Linked DNA regions of Homo sapiens: all the other regions are linked to region 1. Evidence: fine-mapped expression QTL. A gene starts in region 1. Each other region holds a variant in brackets. All regions are shown on one strand. Distances are between the middles of the regions.

Region 1 (5,150 bases):
CCCCTCCAATTCACCTATGCTCCCTTCCACCAGGGCCTTAGACAACCACAAATCCACCACAGGATTTGCCTATTCTGAACATCTCCAAACCTGCCAAAGCTATGCCATTAAAAGGCACTACAGCAAAGAGCATCATGCAACTTGCATCACACTGGGGGCCTGGCACAGAAGTGGCGGTGGTGGCACCAGGCAGGGCCTGATCCACGGGGTCCAGGGTGACCATGTGGGTCATGCAAATGGCATTACACAAATATGCCATGCTTGGCTAAGTTTTTTGTAGAAAAGGGGTTTCACCATATTGCCCAGGCTGGTCTCGAACTCCTGTTCTGCCTTGGCCTCCAAAAGTGCTGGGATTACAGGTGCAAGCCATCATACCCAGTCCCTTGAATACTGTTATGCAATTGTTCCCCATTTTCTGCCAGGTGTTGGTTTGAGGATCTATTAGGATACTAAAATGTGAGTATACTCATGTACTATAGTTGACCCTGCAGAACCTATGGAAACGAAAAGTCAGCCCACCCTATACACAGGTTTCACATCCCATACTGTATTTTCCAACCATGTTTCATTGTGGATGTGGAACCCTCTGATAGAGAGGGCTGACTGTATTTATTGAAAACAAAACAAAACAAAACAAGGGTTGTATTGGTGGACCCATGCAGCTCAAACCCTTGTTGTTCCCAGGTCAACTGTATATCCAGAGCTTATAGGAAAATACCTCTCCCAGTAACCCTGCTCACCATTTCTCTCTTAAGCTATTATTATGATTAGCCACGGTTTGCTATTTAAATTTAAATTTAAATAAAAATGTGGCCTTTCAGTTATGCTAGCCACATTTAAAGTGCTCAATAGCCATATGTGGCTAATGGTTACTATTTCGGACAGCACATATTTAGAACATTCCCATCATTTCAGAAATTTTCATTGGGAACACTCTGCGGAAAAAGGGGGCCATCATAATGTGAGTCCATCTTCTGGAAAAATCCTGGGAAGGGGACAAAGGAGGTCTGTTTGGCATTGTGTAATGGTAATTTGGTATTTAATTTTCAAAAATGTTTACCCAATTCCTATTCATCAGCCAGGTGTGGTGGCTCTTGCCTGTAATCCCAGCACTCTGGGAGGCCGAGGTGGGAGGACTGCTGCAGCCCAGGAGTTTGAGACCAGCCTGGGTAATAATAGGGAGATCCTGTTTCTACAAAACACCAAAAACAAAACAACAACTTTGATGTTGTGGAGTCAGGACAGTCCTGGGTTAAAACCTTTGCTCTCCTTAGCTGTGTAAACCGTGGGTCTCAGCTTTCTTATCTGTTAACGGTAGGTACTTCTTCCTAGGGCTGTTTTGAGGATTAAGTGAAAGTCCAAGATTGTGTCTGGCACACAGTAGCTTCTCAGCAAATGTTTTCCTCCTATGTCAGGGAATGGCTCCTTTATCCCGTTTTGGGCCCATGGGTGGCCCTGAAGGGTGGGTGCTCAGGTGTTAAGTTCTGTAGATGGCATATCCTTGGGAAAAGCAAGGCAATTAAAAACAGTGAGAGGTTGCTCTGGTTAAGTTTTCTCCTATAACTTTCCCCATGGGTCAATTGGGTAGAATCTGCCATTTTCCTAATACTTACTGATGGTAGTGGCATTCGGAAGCACAATAGCTGAAGCCGGAGCTCTGAGTGGAGAGAAAGGTCTGTTTCTCAGGCCCAAAAAGAGGTTACACACCCATGGCTGTCCAGTTTGGTGGTGCAGGCCCTGAAATCAGACCAAACTGGATTTAAATCCCCAAACCTATACTCTAAGCTATGTGACCTTGGGCTAGATACTTCACCTCTCTGGCCTTATGAAGTAGGAATAATAATAATACCGTCTAGGTTGTTAGGAGTATTAAATGAGGTAAAGCACTGAAAACGTTTAGGGACTGTGTTAAATCATTAAATAAATAAAAACGGGGATGACCTTATCGGCTTGACACAGGGGATTAAATGAGATAATATATGAAGACAAGTACACGGCAAATGCTTAATTAATGTTGCTTATTTTTATGTCTGCAAACTGACTTAAAGGGGAGGCCTTTAAGAAAGACAGTGGGGCAATTTGCGCGTTGATGCATTGTAGGAGAAAATGTGCAGGGGGCCCGTTGGGACCAGAGTTCAACCAGGTAAGCGGCAGAAAACCACAAATACCTCCAGGCGTTCCTGGGGCAGCGCCGCCTCCCCAAAATCACGCAAAACTTGGTTTGCTAAGAATTGTCAGCTCTTCTAAAGGAGGCGCTTCACGCATCTCAGTCTGTGAAATGGGACCCAGGACCCAGGTAGAGGTGCGTTCTCGGCCTGGGGACCGAGTATTTTGTGCGCTCCGGTAACGCAGGAAGACAGCGCCACTGACACTCTAGAGACCAGCGGGCACCGCCTGGAGGCGCCTTCACCACTTGGCGGTTCCGGGTCCGCGCCCCACCGCGCCACAAGACTCACGCCCGAACCACGTGATCAGGGCCGTGGCTCCGCCCCGCTCCCGCGCCGCGCGCCGCTTCCGGTAGGGGCGGAAAGCGGAAGTGTGGGAGGGTCTGCGGGGCGGGCTCAGGAGGTCCGCGGGAGGATGGAGCAGTGAGCGGGTCTGGGCGGCTGCTGGCAGCGCCATGGAGACGGTACAGCTGAGGAACCCGCCGCGCCGGTGAGGGGCCACTGGCTAAGAGGACGGGCATGGGGTCAGGGGAAGAAAAGGCGGGAACTGGTTGAGGGGATACACCTGTGTGGGAGTCCCCGGAGCTAAGCGACCCAGCCGATGGGGCACCTGCTGAGTGAGGGGGGGGACGTCTGGTGGGTGAGGGTCCGGCTGAGGGGAGCATCTGCTAAGGAGGTTAGACTTGGGACCGGTTAGAGGGAGCACTCGCTGTGGTGAGACTGTGCTGAGGAACGTGGGGACAAGTTAGGGAGAGTACCTGCTGAGGCCGGGCCACTCGGGGGAACGCTATCCAAGCAGGGACTCACGGAGGTGGGGGCGAATGCTGAAGCAGGGTGAGAATCTGTGAGGGATCTCTTTAAGGGGGTGGATCGAGAACTGGCCAAGAGGAAGGCCGGGTGGACTTTCTAAGGGTCTGAAGTCCCACTTGAGGGGTGCGGTGGGGGGATCTGTGGAGGGGAAAAGCTTTGCGCCTAAGGCTGAAAGCATGCGAGGAAAGGTTGAGGGTCTAGCAAGGGAGGGGATGGTGGAGGGTAGCATTTCAGAGGATGCTGTTGGTGGTGTCCCCACTGTAGGATGGCATCTTTTATTACTGATGTTCAGTGTCTTCCTAATGGTCTTCACATCCTCCTCAGCTCTTCAGAACCTGACATTGGGAGGTAGGTAAGGAAATAAGAGGATATTTTCGAGATGGGGAGACTGAGGTCCAGAGTAGTTGGGAAGTGTTTCCTTCTTTACTCCGGGTCACTGAACCCTGCCAGTCTGTGCCCTTTTCAGGCCTCAGTTGTTTTGTGAATATCAGCACCAAATCCTAGTGGTACCTGGAATTGCTTTAGTTCAAGATCAGGATGGTGGCTGATCCTAGAAAATCTCAACTCCTGGATTTCCCTTGTGGACATCCCGGGTCTTTTGCCACTCTACCACATCTGGAGAAAAGTAGGGACTAGAGACCGAAGGAGTCATGCTTCTCTGAGGTTCAGTGTGGTTACTTCTATTTCACAGAGACGTCTGACTTCCTGCAGCAGAATGAGCTCTAAAGAAGGAAGTGTTCAGGGTGTGGAAGTGCAGGGCAACCAAGAGGTGAAGAGAAGGGATTGACTGCCTGGGCAGCACTCTTAGGGGTTGTTTGAGCTTGGGGATGTTTGAGGTGCACAAACATTGCAGAAGGCAAATAGGTGGTTGGGATGGGCTTTGGATTCACCCTAGCGTAGTGTGCTGAGACTGTAATAGTAATGATTATTACACTCATATTGCACTTACCGGGTGCCAGGCACTGTTCTAAGTGCTTTCCATGTGTCCTGCTGAAGCATATGAAATTGCTGATATTTGACCATTTTTGAACCATAAAAACCTCATTTGAACTCATTTGAACCTCACAACAATCCTGTGTGGTAGATATCCCTATATGTCTGTTTTACAGATGATAAAACTGAGATACAGAGGGTAGTGATTTGCTGGGAGAAGTCATAGCAAGTAAGAGACAGAGCTAGGATTTTAATGTCTATGGGGTCTGGTCCAAAGTCCATGTTCTTTTTTTTTTTTTGAGACGGAGTCTCACTCTGTCGCCCAGTCTGAAGTGCAGTGGCGCAATCTCGGCTCACTGCTACTTCCGCCTTCTGGGTTCAAGCGATTCTCCTGCCTCAGCCTCCTGTGTAACTGGGACCACAGGTGCGTGCCACCACGCCTGGCTAATTTTTTGTAGTTTTAGTAGAGACGGGGTTTCACCGTGTTAGCCAGGATGGTCTCTATCTCCTGACCTCGTGATCCGCCCACCTTGGCTTCTCAAAGTGGTGGGATTACAGGCGTGAGCCACCGGGCCCGGCCATGCTCTTAACTGCCTCACTCTGATGCCTCTCTAAAAGTACCCCTGTTTCACAGGTCTCTGTGTATGTTAGCAGATATTTACTATAGTACCATAGTGATCCAATTATGAATGCACACTAGTTATGTTTCTTTCTGAACTATGTTCGTTCGTTCTTCTTGGTTTCTTTCTCCGAGGCCTTGGTTTAATTGAAAAGAGGATTAGGAATCTGAGTTTTGTTTCCCCCTTTGCCTTGTCTTACATAATCTTGAGCAAAGGACTAAAGTTTCTTGGCATGCTCATTCCTGTACCTTTTGGATTTTAAAAAATGTATTAAAAGCACAAGAGAAGAGCATTGCAGGACTGGGTTCTGAAGTGGCTGGTGATTCCCAGCTCATTGTAACTAGTAGATTGCCTAATTTGAAGCAGATCAATTTTATTATCACGTGTATCAGTTTATCAGGACAAGACAAAGTGTCATGGAGTGGGTGGTTTAAGCAACGTAAATTTATTCTCTCACTGTTCTGAAGGCTAGAGATCTGAAATCAAGGCATTGTCAGAGTTGTTTCTTTTGACGCCTTTGCTTGACTCGTAGATGGCCATCTCCCTGTGTCTCCATGTTCTTCCTTCTGTACCTGTCAGTGTCCTAATCTCCTCTTATAAGGACACCAGTCATACTGGATTA
Region 2 (5,150 bases), 87 kb after region 1:
TTCTCTTTAGTTTCTTTCTTTTCTCTAGCCTTTGATGGTCCAGGCCTCTTGTTGCTAGGGGGCTTTTTGGGAGACAAATTCAAATCCTTACTGTCTAGCTCATTGTTATTGTATCTTTTAGTGAGTTCCTTTTTTCATGGTAGTTCAATAAGTGGTTACCAGGGGTCTTTCTTTGACAGTTATTACTAGCTTCTCTTGTATAGTGGGATTTAGCTGTGGGTTGATTTGTTGTGCTGGTATGTTTTCAACTGCAGCGATGCATTGCTCTATCACATGGATTCTTTTTATAGCTTCATTAGAGGTGTTTTAGTTCCTCTTTTGAATATTTATCTGAGTATCTTAGTACCTTGGCAGTCACACTATCCTAAATTATTATAGTGCCTTCTAAAGTAGATTTTGTCATTGAGGCTTATGTTTAGGTCAGGCTTGCAGGCAGGGAGACAGATTATGCCATTGTGGTTGAGAGGCATATAGTGGTTAAAACCACTGGAGTTATTCTGTTAGGGCTCATAGCCTATCTTCTCCACCTATTATGCCACCTGTCTAACCCTTGATTGTCTTATCTGTCAAACATGGTAAAGTCATACCTCTTTCATAGGGCTGTCGTGAGTATCAAATGAGATGCAGGTTGCGTAATCCCAAATCCAAAAATCCAAAATCCAAAACACTTCTGGTCCCAGGCATCTTGGATAAGGGATACTAAACCTGTAATGCACGTAAAGCACCTTTAGGACAATGGTCCTTACTGCTGGCCTGCAATAAGCACTTAATAAATGTTATTATTTTCTTCTTTTTTGGTGTTGGTTTGCTCTTCTATAATGTTACAATGCTATTTTGTTAACCTTCTAGTTGTAAAAACACACTCATTATAGAAAGTTTAGAGACTGAAGAAAAGCTTAAAGAAGAAAATGTCTCTTACAACTCTTCCACCCCCCCCAGCAATAATAATTACATTTTAACATTTCCTTCCAGTTTTTTAATACTTAGATATTATTTTACACAGCTGAGATCATTCTGCATGCATAATAAATCTTGATTTTTTTTCACTTAACATATCTTAAACATTTTCTCATATCATTAAAAACACTTGTGAAATCATTTTTAAGGGTCACATAGTAGCCCATCACATTACATTCTTTTGATTGATTTAATCATCCTCTTTTTACTTGGCATTTAACATTTGGGGCTTTTTTGGTTGGAGTTGGGTTGTTTTCAGGTCGTTCTAATATATTAAGCCAGGCTTTTTTCTTGTCAACAGGAGGTTTGGGGATTGAGTCTTTGTGATTGTTTTTATTGTTGCATTTTTTTGCCTGTTGAGTGTGTGAATTAAGCTGGGGTTTTAACCATCAGCACCTGCGCTCTCAGACTCTTGCCACCACCTTTCTGGACAATCTCCATGCTCTGCTTTTTAAACTTTTTCTGATGAGTTTCTTTTCTTCTGTGCTAGAAGAAAGATGAATGGAGACTATGTTTGGTGTTTAGGTTTCTGACCCGGCAGTGCCATGTGAATGCCCAGTAGCTAGCCAAGGTCAACAGCACTGCCTGTTAATGGCTTTTTACTGAAGTAGTCCTGTCGAGCAGTTTCTGGTGAGAAGACTATCCTAAATTGTTCTTGACAGGGTACACTATTTTTGTTTCAACTTCTTATTTTTCCTGTAAAGCTTGGTTTAAAGTATGTTGAGACTGAATTTATTTGTGCTTTGGAATATAATGAGATTTTGTGCTCTTTTCTTTCAGAAAACTAGCCAAGAACAGCAGTCTGGAAAAGACATATGTATCCAAAATTGCCAGGGAAACCTGCTGTGTAGATACGCTTTCTGAGAAACCACATGGTAAATGAATGTCATCTTTGTCTCAGAACCACAGTAGCCTGGTTCTGCTGGTGGATCGTGCTAGCTGATTTGAGCTGGGTTTTTAACTCAGTTATTGAAATGGCTTTGAGAGCAGGACTTAAATGCCTGCGGTTTTTGACCTCAAGAGGTTGCTTAAAACAGTATCAGCCTGTGTGAGCCTGAGACTGTTTTTCATTTCCTTTGTTTGGTTCGGAGACTGCTTGATCCATGGCTGCTTGGCAGGCTTCTTCTTTAGCGTTCATTCTTGTGGCCATTTATTCTCTGATATTAAACTACAGGATAATTTTAATCTCAACTACATGGTGAGAAAAAGAGCTGAGTCCAGACTGGCTCAGAAATGGAGCCTAAGAACTGCAATAAGTATCCTAGCACCTTAGGCCCTAGGAAGGACTGTTCCATAGTTAACTTCTGTGTGGCTTCACTGTAAGCACAGGTGACAGATGGGCATGTCTTGAATTCCTAGAAGCCATTGTCTCTCTCAATCATCTGTTCCAACACTGTATCAGAGAATGATAAACTTTCAGAATTGAAAAGGGTCTTAAAGGACATATTTTCCAGCTCTTGCTATATTTCCAACAAGAGGCATCATCTCACATTTGCTTGACTACCTGCAGTCATTTCTGAGAAGAGGGAATTCCACAAGTTGGAAGTAGTTCAAATCATTGCTCAAAGCTGTGTGTAAAGATAGTAGTTTTTTTTTGTTTTTTGTTTTTTTTTTCAGCCAAAATTTGTCCCCAGGGAACCTCTATCCATGAAATTTTGATTACTTCTCACAGGAACTTTAGCAAAAGTTAGTTGGGATTGTCTGGATTTTCCGTTTTGCAGATAGAGAAAGCCACCATCTCTTTCCCCTAACTACTTAGTACTATGGTAACTTGGGTTTAGGAAAATTTGCCAGTTCATTGTTACCAAGGCAAGTGACTAAATCGTGGGTTCTCTGTATGCTAATGCTGCCCCGCATATAGGCTTTACTGCTGTCCGTGCTTCATTCTCTCTCTGTTTAGCTGAGAAAATGAGTGTGAAAGCACTTAGCCAATAGTAGTAGATGTTGGGTGACATTTCATTAAAAGTGCAGACTCCTGGCCAGGTGCGGGGCTCACATCTGTAATCCTAGCACTTTGAGAGGCCAAAGCGGGAGGATCCCTCGAGCCCAGGAGTTTGAGACCAGCCTGACCAATGTAGCTAGACCTTGTCTCTACAAAAAATTAAAAAATTAGCCAGGCATGGTGGTGCCCACCTGTAGTCCTGCTACTCAAGAGGCTGAGGCAGGAGGATCACTTGAACCCGGAGTTTGAGGCTGCAGTAAGCTATGATTGCACCA[C/T]TGCACTCTAGCCTGGGCAACAGTGGGACACCCTATCTTTTTTTTTTTTTTTTTTCAAAAAAAAAAAAAAAGGAAAAAGTACAGACCCCAGAGTCAGACAGAACCTGATTCAATTTTGATTTCAACCACTTGCGGGCTGTGTTAACCTCAATGGATTATATAATTCTTCAAACCTCAAATTCCCCATCTGTAGCACTGGGTTAATAATTATAGCTGTAAGATTTAATGAAGAGCAAATGAGATTAATACATATAAAATACTTAATGTATGGCTGCTAATAATGAACAGTTAATGCTTAAAAAATTCTGGCTTTTATTATTGCTATTGTTACTATTCCTGTAATCACTGTCCAACAAGGTCCCTGAATCTGCCCTCTCATTAAGGCAATACAGGCAGAGCTTAACCTTCTCTCCCACCTGTCCTTGTGATTTCTTCTCTCCATAGGACTACCCTTGGTATTCATTTTCACCTGATTTACCAAGAATAGCAATATAAGCATCAAAAGAAGGGGTGGGGATGGGCATGTACACAATTTCTCTGGCCCCTGGATATCCCTGCTTCTCTTACATGGGGAGGTTTCAGGAGTGACCTTGTTACTCTGCCGTGTTGTCAGAACTGGAGGTTGGGCGTTAACTTATTTTTTCTCATTTTCCTGCCTTTAGGGAAAACACGTATATTCAGAAATATCATGGTTGTCTCTATTTTCAGAGATGGTTTCATCCTCTGTGGCTCTGTCATTTGAGTATGTGTTTTTAACAATCTACTCATTCCACTTTGTCCTTGTGGTCTAGATTTCTTAGTAGTCAGTTTTGTTTGGTTTCACTCCAGATGTAGGTCTCTGCCGCTTCCCAAGACATCTTAATTTCATGCACATTTAAAAATTTATTGGCATCAAGTTTCAGATTTTAAAATTTGCAGTATCTGTATTTATAGCTTGCTTTTCATTCCTGTTATTTGTTTCTTCTTTTTTTTCCGGGGGGTGGGGATCAGTCTTATCAAAGTGTAATTTTTTTTTTAAGCCCAAACCAGCTTTTGGTTTTGTTGATCCTTGCTACTGCACATTAACTTTTGAATTCATTAATTTATGTTCTTACATCATTTTCTTCTTTCTGCTTTCTATGGGTTTATTTCTCTTTTCTTCACTTGGACAATTCAGCTTACTAATTTTTAATTATCTTTCTTTTCTTTTTCTTTCTTTCTTTCTTTTTTTTTTGTTTTCTTTTTCCCCGAGACGGAGTCTTGCACTGTTGCCCAGGCTGGAGTGCAGTGGCATGATCTTGGCTCACTGCAATCTTTGCCTCCCAGGTTCAAGCAATTCTCCTGTCTCAGCCTCCCGAGTAGCTGGGACTAGAGGTGCACACCACCATGCCTGGCTAATTTTTGTATTTTTAGGAGAGACGGGGTTTCACCATGTTGGCCAGGCTGGTCTGGAACTCCTGACCTCATGATCTGCCTGCCTCGGCCTCTTAAAGTGTTGGGATTACCAGCGTGAGCCCCCGCGCCGGGCCCAATTATCTTTCTTTTCTAACATACATTTAAGGCTGTAAAATTTCCTTTAAATACTATTTCAACTACCTGCCACAATTTTTTGCTATGTAATATTTTTGTAAAGTCAGATTTGTTGAGGTTTAATTTATATGCTATAGAACATGCTCCTTTTAAGTGTACAGTTGGATGAGTTTTAATAGAAATATACAGTTGTATAAATACCACCATAATCAAGCTATAGAACATTTCTAATATCCCATCAAGTTCCCTTATGCCCTGTTTTTTGTCCCTAAAGTTTTGTCTTTTCTGGGATGTCAGATGAATGGAATTGTGCAGTATATAGCCTTTTGTGTTTGGCCTCATTCACTTAGCATACTGTTCTGAGATTTGTTCATTTGTTGCATATGTCTGGAGTTTGTTCCTTTTTATTGCTGAGTAGTTTCCATTGTATGGATATTACCAGAATTTATCTGTTCACTACTACTTTA
Region 3 (5,150 bases), 110 kb after region 1:
AGGATCATGATTTTCTAAATGTGGGCACAACAGACCTCTTGTAAGACTTTGAGTTCTTGAAACACTGTACCTATTAAACTGGTTGTGAGCACACAGAATAAAGTATCACCACCCACTGTGGATAATGTCAGCATTCATTCCCACCCCTGACAGCCAATATTGGCCAGGCTTGGAATCACTGAACACACATGGCAGCAGAGTCCCTTGCCCCATAGCTGCAGACACAGGTTGAACACTGGTGTATCCCTGGGCTTTTATGAAGAGAGAGGCTTATAACACCCATTGCCATCTTTACACACACAGTGCAGCAGGTACTGTGCTGAGAACTTTACAGCCGTGATCTTATTTAATTCTTACAATACATGTGATGAGACACTGCTGTCTGACTTCTGTAGATGGGGAAGGCCTGGAGAGATTGGTAACTTGACAGAGTCTCATGGCATCTGCAACAGGCAGAACCACATTTTAAACAAAGGTTGAGTTACTTCTAAAACCTGTGCTTTGCTAGTCTTCTGTTCTGCAACACTGGTTAAGAGCATAGACTCTAGAGCCATGCTGCCTGGGTTTGAGTCTTGATTCTGCCACTTACTAGTTGGGAGACATTGGGCAGGTTACTTAGCTACCCTCCTCCTTGGGCTGTTCATCTGTAACATAGGGATAATAATGTCCTTGTAGCATGGGTTGCTCTGAGGATTAAAGGAATCCATATATGTAAAGCACTCAGTGTCTGGTGCATAGAAAACACTAAATGCCAGCCATTATTATTAATTTATATATCAACTCATTGTTTTTCTTTGGATGATAGAAACTTAATCTCAGAAGTTTGAGGTTTTTCTAACTACCCACCCTTACCCCAACCCCTGCCAAGGGTTGCGTCTGTATTCCCAAGGGGCTTAGACTGTTACCTGGTATATAGTAGCCTCAAGTAAATGCTGGTGATGATAATAGGGCAGTGCCAAGACATTGGGGGTGTGGGAAGGCAGGGTTAGGGGATGGCATCTGCGCCTCATCAGCATCGATCCTCCATGGTGTCGTATCCTGAAAGTGGGAAAGGCGCTGTCCAGATAGACGCTTATCTCGTAGACAGAACAAGAACGGGGAGGCAACCATTATTTCACATACAGCAAGTTACTGTTATTTTAATGCCCTAACAATGAATCTATATTTAATTAACTTAAAAGATAGGGGAGGTGAGAGTATTATTCACTAAGTTCTTGGTCAAGGCACATTAAATCAAAGCGGTTAGCACTTAGATCTCTTCCAGGGATAAATTATCTCAGACAAGCTTCAAGGTATGCCATGCTTTGGAATGAATTGTCACTTTCCAACCACCACCACTCAACCTGTGATCTGACCACAGTGTCTTCCTCCTGTCTCCCTTCCCTCTGGGTGCCTGGGAAGGCTGGGCTTCTGCACTGTTCTGCCACTGACTTAAGCTTTGTCGTGACTATACCTTCCACTTCTCTTCTAGCTTAAGAGTTGGACAGTGGAGGACCTTCAGAAGAGGCTCTTGGCCCTGGACCCCATGATGGAGCAGGAGATTGAAGAGATCCGGCAGAAGTACCAGTCCAAGCGGCAGCCCATCCTGGATGCCATAGAGGCTAAGAAGAGACGGCAACAAAACTTCTGAGCAAGGCCAGGCTGTGAGGGCCCCAGCTCCACCCAGGCTTTGGGTGAATTCTGGATGGCTTGCCTCATGTTTGTTAGCCAGCACTTCTGCTCTGTCGTCTCTCCACAGCACCTTTGTGAACTCAGGAATGTGCGCCAGTGGGAAGGGCTCTCTTGACAGTCAGCGTGCCATCTTGATGTGTGTATGTACATTGGTCAGGTATATTATCTCAAAGGATTTATATTGGCGCTTTTAACTCAGAGTTTTAAACCCCAGGAACAGAGACTCCTAGTTGAGTGATAGCTGGGAAAGTTTTACATTGTCTGTTTTTCTTCTCCCAATAGCTTTCAATTGTTCTTTCTGGAAGACTTTTAAAAAAATATAAATATGCATATATATATATAAATTATAAATAGATTCCCCACGCAGTGTGGTGGCATCTCTGTACAGGTACAGTTTTAAACGGTTTGCCTCTTTTCTGTAAGATTATGGTACTGTGGAACATGAGGGCAGAGGACACCGGGAGGCTGTTAGGGGGTCACTGAATCCCAGGAGCCAACCTCCCCCTTTGCAGGGCTGCATTTAAAAATTAGGTTTGGGACAGTTCTTGTACCGTGGTTTCAGCCTTGTGTGGTCATCACTGGCTTCTGGAGCTATTGGTGATGTCCAAGGGAAAGCTTTGAGAGTTTATGTTTACTCTTTGAGTCCCAGGAGAAGCCTGGCACCCTCTTTGCAAATTGGCCTTTGCTCTTTCAATGCCTTTCATCCATCTCCACTCTCTCAACTGCCTAAAGTCACAGCACAGATACTGCCCAGTGCCTTAAGAGGAGACATGATCTCTACCAGGGACTCTCAGCAAACACGGGACTGTGTTCAGTCCACAAAGGAAAAGCGTTTTTGAAGCTCTCATTGTTCATGTAAAAATCATACACGTGGCATGTTGCTCCACATTCCTTACACACAGGGGTAGAGGGGATTGCTTTTGTGACCCACGTTCAAATATGTGACTGTTTTCTTTTCTCTTTTACTGCTAAGCAGCCTGGAAAGGATAAATGAATATTAGACTAAGATTTGTTTTCCAGGAGGCTCAATCTGAACACACAGAATGTCAGAGCTGGAAGGGACTATAGAGATCATCTGATCTGA[T/C]CCTCTTGTACGGATGATCGCAAAACTGAGGTGTAGAGAGGGGAATGGCCAAAATCACAAAGCAAGTTAGCGTTAAGAGCTGAGACTAGAATTCAGGGTCCTCACTCCCAGGCCACCGAACCATGCAGCCCCTTCTTTGGGGGAAGAGACCTGTGTCAGTCTTGGTTAATTGTTCCAGGGAACCTTGCTAACAGAAACTTGCTCTTGCCTTGGCTCTTCAGTAGATGACCTGGCTGTAAAGAGATTCCCTGGACGAGCCAGATCATTCAGTTTCAGCGAGTCCTTGAGCTCCACAACATCTACCAGATATAGCAGACAAGCACCCATGGAGGCAGGTTTCGGGCCTGAAGCAGATCAGAGGGCTTTGCAAAAGACAGCATAGAGCCATCTTCCTGCAACTTTACCTCTTTCCCTCAGATGGGGAGCCATGACTGGGTTGCACCTCAGGATACTGTAATTTGACTCCATAATTGCTTTTGCTCCTGAAACCTGGGAATCAATGGAAAGGCAGGGAATGTGCCTCTTCTGTGGCCAGATTCTGTTATTTGCAATTAAAGCAAGTTTTTAAAAAATGCAAGAGGCAGTTGTTAGTCTTCAGGGCTTGGCAACTGAAATAGCTATGTGGCGGATACGGAAAACAGAGGACAATTTGAGGATCTTGCTGGAATAATAAATGACAGCTACCATTTGTTGAGCACCTATTATATATCAGGCACTGAGCTGGGTAGGCTCTAAACTTCACAATAACCCTGTGACTTAACTACTTTATCTCCATTTTGTAGTTGAAGAAATAAGTTCAGAGAGAAAGATTCCTTCCCAAGGTCATGCAGCTAGTAAATGATAGAATCAGGATTCATAGCATCACTATAGGGGGTCAATATTTACACAAAAAAGGAAAGTCACAAGCCTGTTTAAAATGAAGTGACCACCTTTTCTTGCATAGACTAAATAACTCGAACTGGCATTTTTAGGTTGGAAAGACAGCTGAATTAGTAGTTAAGTCTGATAGCCAAGTAAGTTTTAAAAACCAAAGCATCCAGGATGCACACCCCTGCACCATTTGCTGTGCGAATTAATAGTTCTGTCTCTCTCTCTCTTTCTTTTTTCTTTTTATTCTTTGAGATGGATTTTCGCTCTTGTCGCCCAGGCTGGAGTACAATGGCACGATCTTGGCTCACTGCAACCTCCGCCTCCCGGGTTCAAGCGATTCTTCTGCTGGGATTACAGCATATGCCACCATGCCCAGATTATTTTTTTGTATTTGTAGTAGAGACGGGGTTTCACCATGTCAGTCAGGCTGGTCTTGAACTCCTGACCTCAGGTGATCCACCCGCCTCAGCCTCCCACACTGCTGGGATTACAGGCATGAGCCACCGCTCCTGGCCTCTCTTTCTTTTTTAAACAAAGAACTTTGCACTTGGCCAGAGAGGAGGAGAAAGCCCATTTTCTCCCTTCCTAAGCTAGATCCAAATAAAAGAAAGTTCAGTTTTCCCCCATAACTATTCTTGGGTCATGAACTTTGATCTGGAGTTTGTTTTGTTTCAGGAATGTGTGCACCCAGCTTGCTGATCCAACAAAGTCTATTGCTTACCAGTCTAGCTTGATGAAGCCTTTTGGCCAGAAGTCAATTTGTTTTGGATCAGAGAAATTTCCTGACAAGGTATATTTGTTTTCTAGTGACAGAAAGGCAAAGGAACAAGTCCTAGTTGTTGTTGTTGTTGTTGAATACTAAATTTAAGATATGTCAGCTTGCTTTCAATGAGCCTTGGGCTTCTGTTATTGCTTGAGCATTTGGAACTCGAGCTTCCAGAGAAATTTGAGGTCCTCGCTTGTTCTCTGCCTTCAAGAAACAATGACCTGATTCTGTCTTTAAAAAAAAAAATCTCAGAATTCTTTTTTTGTTTGTGTTTTTTTTTTTTTTTGAGACAGAGTCTCACTCTGTTGCCCAGGCTGGAGTGCAGTGGCGCCATCTCGGCTCACTGCAACCTCCGCCTCCCAGGTTCAAGCAATTCTCCTGCCTCAGCCTCCCAGGTAGCTGCCACTACAGGTGCTGCACCACCACGCCCGGCTAATTTTTGTATTTTTAGTAGAGACAGGGTTTCACCATATTAGCCAGGTGGGTCTTGAACTCCTGACCTTGTGATCCACCCGCCTCGGCCTCCCAAAGTGCTGGGATTACAGGCGTGAGCCACCTTGCCTGGCCAAAAATCTCAGAATTCTTTAAGACTGTTTTAATTGCTCCATCAGTAATTTTGAAGCACTTTCCTTTTTTTTTTTTTTTCCCCTTTTTGTCCCTTTCCCCAAGCCACCAATTGGATGGATGAATGTTTGACGGGGAAGAGGAAGGGTAGGAGGATGCATGGATGAGTGGATGAGTGGATCGATGGATGTATTG
Region 4 (5,150 bases), 54 kb after region 1:
AGTGATAAAATGGAGTTTCAAAAGACTGTAAAAGGTGAGACCAATTAGGAAATTCTTGCAAGAACCAAGATGTGGACCATTCTCACCTGTGAACATTTTTTATCTTTTTAGATGTGCTGCCACTATTGCTCTAGTTAGTAATCCTTTGAATTTTGGATTTAGCTCTCTTTGAATTTATATATTTCAGTTCACCAGAATTAAAACAGCTAGAGCACCATTGCCCAGAAATTAAGTCCATTCATATAGAGGCAGTTACTGAAACTGCTTAACTGGAAGAGTTATTCTGGGCTCCAGGGAACCTTATAACTTATGATTCCAGCAATTCTTAGTGGTTTCAAAGGACATTCAAAGGAATATTTATGGCTGTACACAGCTACTTGGATAGTAACCAGTGTAATTAAATGAGCTGATACATGTAAAGCACTTAGGTGCCTGGTAACAAAAACAAAACCCAAAACCACACACTCATAACAAATGTTAGAAAAAAACAAACCCTGTGATAAGAATTGCACATTAAGGCATACTATTCCAAGCCAGAGGAAAACATTTGCAGGATTACCAGAGTTGTTGTTGTTGTTGTTGTTGTTGTTTTTCCTGCAAACATTCATGCATGAAACAGAGAAAAAAAATCAGGCTCTGCCCAGTTCTCTGGTTTGCACAGAATTAATTACAATTTAAGTAGAAAAGAGTCATTGTAGGAATTAAGGAAACAGTAGGTTGACCATATTGGTTTACTTAGTGACAGTCTGGAAAATGAAGGTTTGAAATTGAAGGTCATGAAGTTTAAGGTCTAGTAGATGGTCATTCCAATGGAACAGTGGGCTTCAGTCTTTGGTCAAGGTCCTTCCCAGTTATGACTACCTAGACATTATGTTGTAGTTCATATGAATCCAGAAATAAGAGCAAATAGTTAAGGAAAGGTGTCTTGCTGCTTAAAAAAAATTGAGTTACTGACATATAATTTACACACCATACAATTTGTTCATTTAAAGTGTACAGTTTAATGGTTTTTAGTTTATTCACAGAGTTGTGCAACCATCACCACAATCTAATTTTTAAAATTCTATCTAATTTTTAAAGTTCTACTTTTTTTTTTTTTTTTTAATTTGGAGACAGGATCTTGGTCTGTTGCCCAGGCTGAAGTGCAGTGGCATGAGCATAGCTTACTGCAGTCTTGAACTGGGCTCAAGTGATCCTTCTGCCTTAGCCTCCTGAATAGTTGGGACTACAGGTGTGCACCACTATGCCCAGCTAATTTAAAAAAAAAATTTTTGTAGAGACAGGGTCTCACTATGTTGCTCAGGCTAGTCTCGAACTCGTGGCCTCAAGCCATCCTCCTGCCTTGGCCACCTGAAGTGCTGGAATTACAGGCATGAGCCACCATGCCTGGCCACTATTTTTAAATTGAGATATAATTTATATGTCATAAAATTTGCCATTTTAAAGCATAGAATTCAGTGTTTTTTTAGGATATTAACAAGGTGTTGCAACTTTAAGCACTATTGAATTCAAGACATTTTTATCATCCCCTCAAAAAACTCTAATCCTGTTAGCAGTCACTTCTCATTTGCCTCTCACCCCCAGGCAACCATTAATCTACTTTCTGTCTCTATAGATTTGCCTGTTTTGGACAGTTTATGTAAATGGAATCATATAACATGTGGCCTTTTGAGAATGGCGTCTTTCATTTTGCATAATGTTTTTGAGGTTTATCCATGTTATAGCATGTATCACTATTTCTTTTTGTTGCTGAATAATATTCCACTGTATGGATACACTGCATTTTGTTTATCTGTTCATCAGCTGATAGACATTTGGGTTGTTGATTCCTTCTGCTTTTACGTAGCATTTTTCAAAGAAAAATAAATGGAAGATACAGTTGCTTATGAATTCACTGCTTTGTCTGTAGGCTTAGACAGATTGTTCATTTAGCTTGACAAATGCTGCTTACAAAGAAAAATAGGCCAGTCTTAGCATAGGAATTCATGCATTTCCGGCATCAGATAAAAGAATCAGAGCAAGATGTGGTATTTTCAAGGCTTGATTTCTCTCTTCAGTCCATTCTTTCTACGGCTTTAGGTTTCTTGTATTATCATTCAGCTGAACATCTTTATTTCTTGGGATACATCTGAAAAAATATGCTAGCTCAAGTTAAAACAAAAAACCCACAAGCTAGC[T/C]GAAGCCCTGGGGGACAGCATGGCCTTTAATCAGCTTGGAATGATTCTCTTACACTTTTCAACCTGACAAGCTGCTGTCCAGCACACTTGATCATCTATCTAGCTAACGGGTGCTGAAAGAAAAGTTCAAAGATAAGGTTACTGGGAAAATTACATTTCCCCACTCTTTCTGCACTTAGTTTAATGGCAGTTCTAACATGTCAAGAATCTTTATTTTGATTTTAGAGACTGTACAATATGAGATGTAGATCACTAAACTTAAAACCTGACATTTGGCATTCAAGTCCCATCCTTGTTGGTTACTAGCTTAGAAATCTGCAAATTTCTCACTTGTAAAAGGGGCATAATAAATAACATATATCTCAAAAGACTCTTTGAGGATTAAGTGATATAGTACATTTTCTGGCACTTGATAGATGCCTATTAAGTGTAAGGCTTTTCCCCCTCTACTTTATATGGTGGTCATGCAGTTTGGATGTGCAGTTTGGATGAGACCATTATGTGAAAGCACCTAGTAGAAAGCCTGAAATGTAGAAGGTATTTAGTGAATGTTAGTTAAATTTGAACCTAAGTTTCCAAAGAATAGAACTCTTTTTTCCAGATTTAGGGGTGTATGTTTATGCGTGTGTGTGTGTGTGTGTGTGTGTGTGTATGTTTATGTTTATGTTTATGTTTATGTTTATGTGAGATAGAGATACTGAAACTGTGTCAGTTAGCTTTTGCTGCATTGTAAACCACCCTAAAATTTAGTGGTTTAAAATAGCCATTTTATTTAACTTGATTCATGATTCTGTAAGTTGGCAGTTAGGTTGGACTCAGGTAGGCAGGCAATTCTGGTCTGAGCTGGTTAGCTCTGCTCTGTGGTCAGCTGGTGCAATAACAGCTGGGGATGGCTGATTTATTTGTTGAGACATTTGTTGACTTGGGCCTCTCCACGTAGTATTTCACCATCTAGCAGGCTCAATCAGGTTTATTTATATTATAGTAAAATATACAAGACTTTTTTTTTTTTTGAGACAGGGTCTTGCTCTGTTACCCAGGCTGGAGTACAGTTGTGCGATCATAGCTCACTGCAGCCTTGACCTCCTGGGCTCAGGTGATCCTCCTGCCTCAGCCTCCCAAATATTTGAGACCACAGGTGCGTGCCACCACACCCAGCTAATTTTTTTAAAAAATTATTATTTGTAGAGACCAGGTCTTGCTATGTTGCCCAGGCTGGTCTCGAACTCCTGGGCTCAAGCAGTCTACCCACCTTGGCCTCCAAAGTGGTGGGATTACAAGCATGAGCCACCATGCCCAGCCTACACAAGAATTTTTAAGTCTCTTCTTGCTGTACATTTGCTATTGTCTCAATGCCCAAAGCAGGTTAGATAGCCAGGCCCAGAGTCATTGTGAGAGGGAGTAAGGTAAGGATGAAGATACCAAGAGGAAATTGTTGTGGCCATTTTTAAAAACAATTTATCTTAGATACTAATTGTGATAGGAATGCAAATCTGTTTACTGAGAATTATTATCAGTCTATAAAATCAGACTTAGTACAGGTGCTGCAATGTAATGACAGTGTTATTCACAATAGGAATACTGCTGTCTTCTTCATATAAACTTAACATGTCAGTAAAGCACTCTCACACATGAAGAAAGAATCATTATGGTGGAGGCATTTATTTTCTGGAATCACTAAATACAAGGATCAGCTAATTGTTTTTGAATGTCTGCTGTTTCTTGCCAGTTAAGGTGGCTTCCCCTATCAGTCAGTTCATTCAGTTTTTCACTTTAGTTCCATAAAATATTTCATCTGCATCTCTAGACGATATCTTTATTACAGTTTGAGTTACCTCTTCCATCTGTTAAACCACCAACAACAAAAAATCCAAAGAATCAGAGATACTCTTGTCACTAAAATATTTCTTGAGTCTTAACTATTTTTCACTTTGGTCTTTGCTTTATGCCTGTACACATCTAGTTGTAGCATGTTTTAGATGAGAGGCATCCAGTATCATAATCCTACTAGAGATAAGAACTTCTTCTTTTGAATAGTTATTAATAACTGAGCATAAATATGTTTTCATATGCTACTGCCAAGTCATAAAATCACGGAATTTTTCAAAGCTGCAGGGAACATTAGATATAATCTGGCCCTGTGTCTTCTTTTTGCAGATTGGGAACCTGTGGTTTTACCAAGATCGTGTAGTCAGAACCAGAATCTAAATCTTTGAACTGCAGGATAGGGATTACTTTCCATTTTTTTTTATTGTGGTAAAATATACATAACATAAAATTTGAGGAGAGGAATTTTTCCGTTCTTCTGTCTCCAAAATCAACTTTAGCTTTTTGGCAATCTGATAAATGTAACATTTTAACTAATCATTTTGCTATAATTAAATTTCTAATACATATGTGCATTTTACTTACAGCTTATATCTGAATATGTGGTTAGATAAAAAAAATTCTCTTTTTATTTCACTTTAGTTTTTGGAACTTCGAATTCTAATAAATGTCAGGTATAATCAGGTCCCTGGTATTGATATCAGAAGGTAAAAGCAAATACATTTTAGATAGACTTTCTTATTTGTGGATTTTCATTGTTGAAAGAGACAAAGAACAGTTGGTGTTTTAACTCCAAAAATTAGAAATTTTTAAGTGGGTTGGTAAGAAAGAAGAACTCAAATATGAGGCAAGCAGATGTTCTCACTTTTTCATCTGAACAGTGACAGAAATAGACAAATAATTATATTCTCACTTAACAGACATTTCTTTGATTTTTATGACATGGTTTAGAATTAGACCACAGAAATGTTATCTTTAGTGTTTCATCATCCTTGGTTTAAAGATTCAATTTCTTAAGTCCACCTGTATTGCAACTGAAAGTAATTAATGAAGAACCATAGAAATATATTGTTTTATTGTTGGATATAATACATTTTAAAAAAGAATGACGCCCTTATGGTTTTTGTAAATTCCATTGGAGAAAAA

Which allele goes with the higher level. Positions count from the first base shown, and alleles are read on the strand shown. Sizes are in standard deviations (SD) of each study's normalised expression. Not every link is listed here.
For the expression in fibroblasts of the gene that starts at base 2,564 in region 1, allele T in region 4 goes with a lower level than allele C (small effect, 0.18 SD a copy in GTEx).

The links. PIP is the estimated chance that this variant, and not a neighbour inherited with it, causes the effect. A credible set is the group of variants that fine-mapping cannot tell apart.
Region 2: its variant is the best candidate, but not a certain one, in a credible set for the expression of STK4 in whole blood (TOPMed, PIP 0.54).
Region 3: its variant is the best candidate, but not a certain one, in a credible set for the expression of STK4 in blood mononuclear cells (TOPMed, PIP 0.67).
Region 4: its variant is the best candidate, but not a certain one, in a credible set for the expression of STK4 in fibroblasts (GTEx, PIP 0.78).

What each region holds. Positions count from the first base shown.
Region 1 is chr20:44,963,949-44,969,098 of GRCh38, forward strand. It overlaps STK4 (serine/threonine kinase 4), which reads left to right and starts at 2,564. Exons shown (of 11, transcript NM_006282.5): 1 at 2,564-2,655. The coding sequence starts at 2,621. It overlaps STK4-DT (STK4 divergent transcript), which reads right to left and starts at 2,510. Exons shown (of 3, transcript NR_038341.1): 1 at 2,169-2,510; 2 at 1,614-1,737; 3 at 1-1,500. RefSeq lists silencers at 2,389-2,638, 4,319-4,448 and an enhancer at 3,779-3,858.
Region 2 is chr20:45,051,349-45,056,498 of GRCh38, forward strand. The region is part of intron 10 of STK4 (serine/threonine kinase 4); the gene reads left to right. Among named protein-coding and RNA genes, the nearest start is that of KCNS1, 47 kb to the right of the region's middle. RefSeq lists a silencer at 482-551. The variant C/T (reference allele first, on the strand shown) is at 3,175.
Region 3 is chr20:45,073,547-45,078,696 of GRCh38, forward strand. STK4 (serine/threonine kinase 4) reads left to right here. Exons shown (of 11, transcript NM_006282.5): 11 at 1,472-5,150. The coding sequence ends at 1,630. Among named protein-coding and RNA genes, the nearest start is that of KCNS1, 25 kb to the right of the region's middle. The variant T/C (reference allele first, on the strand shown) is at 2,756.
Region 4 is chr20:45,017,640-45,022,789 of GRCh38, forward strand. The region is part of intron 9 of STK4 (serine/threonine kinase 4); the gene reads left to right. Among named protein-coding and RNA genes, the nearest start is that of STK4, 54 kb to the left of the region's middle. The variant T/C (reference allele first, on the strand shown) is at 2,178.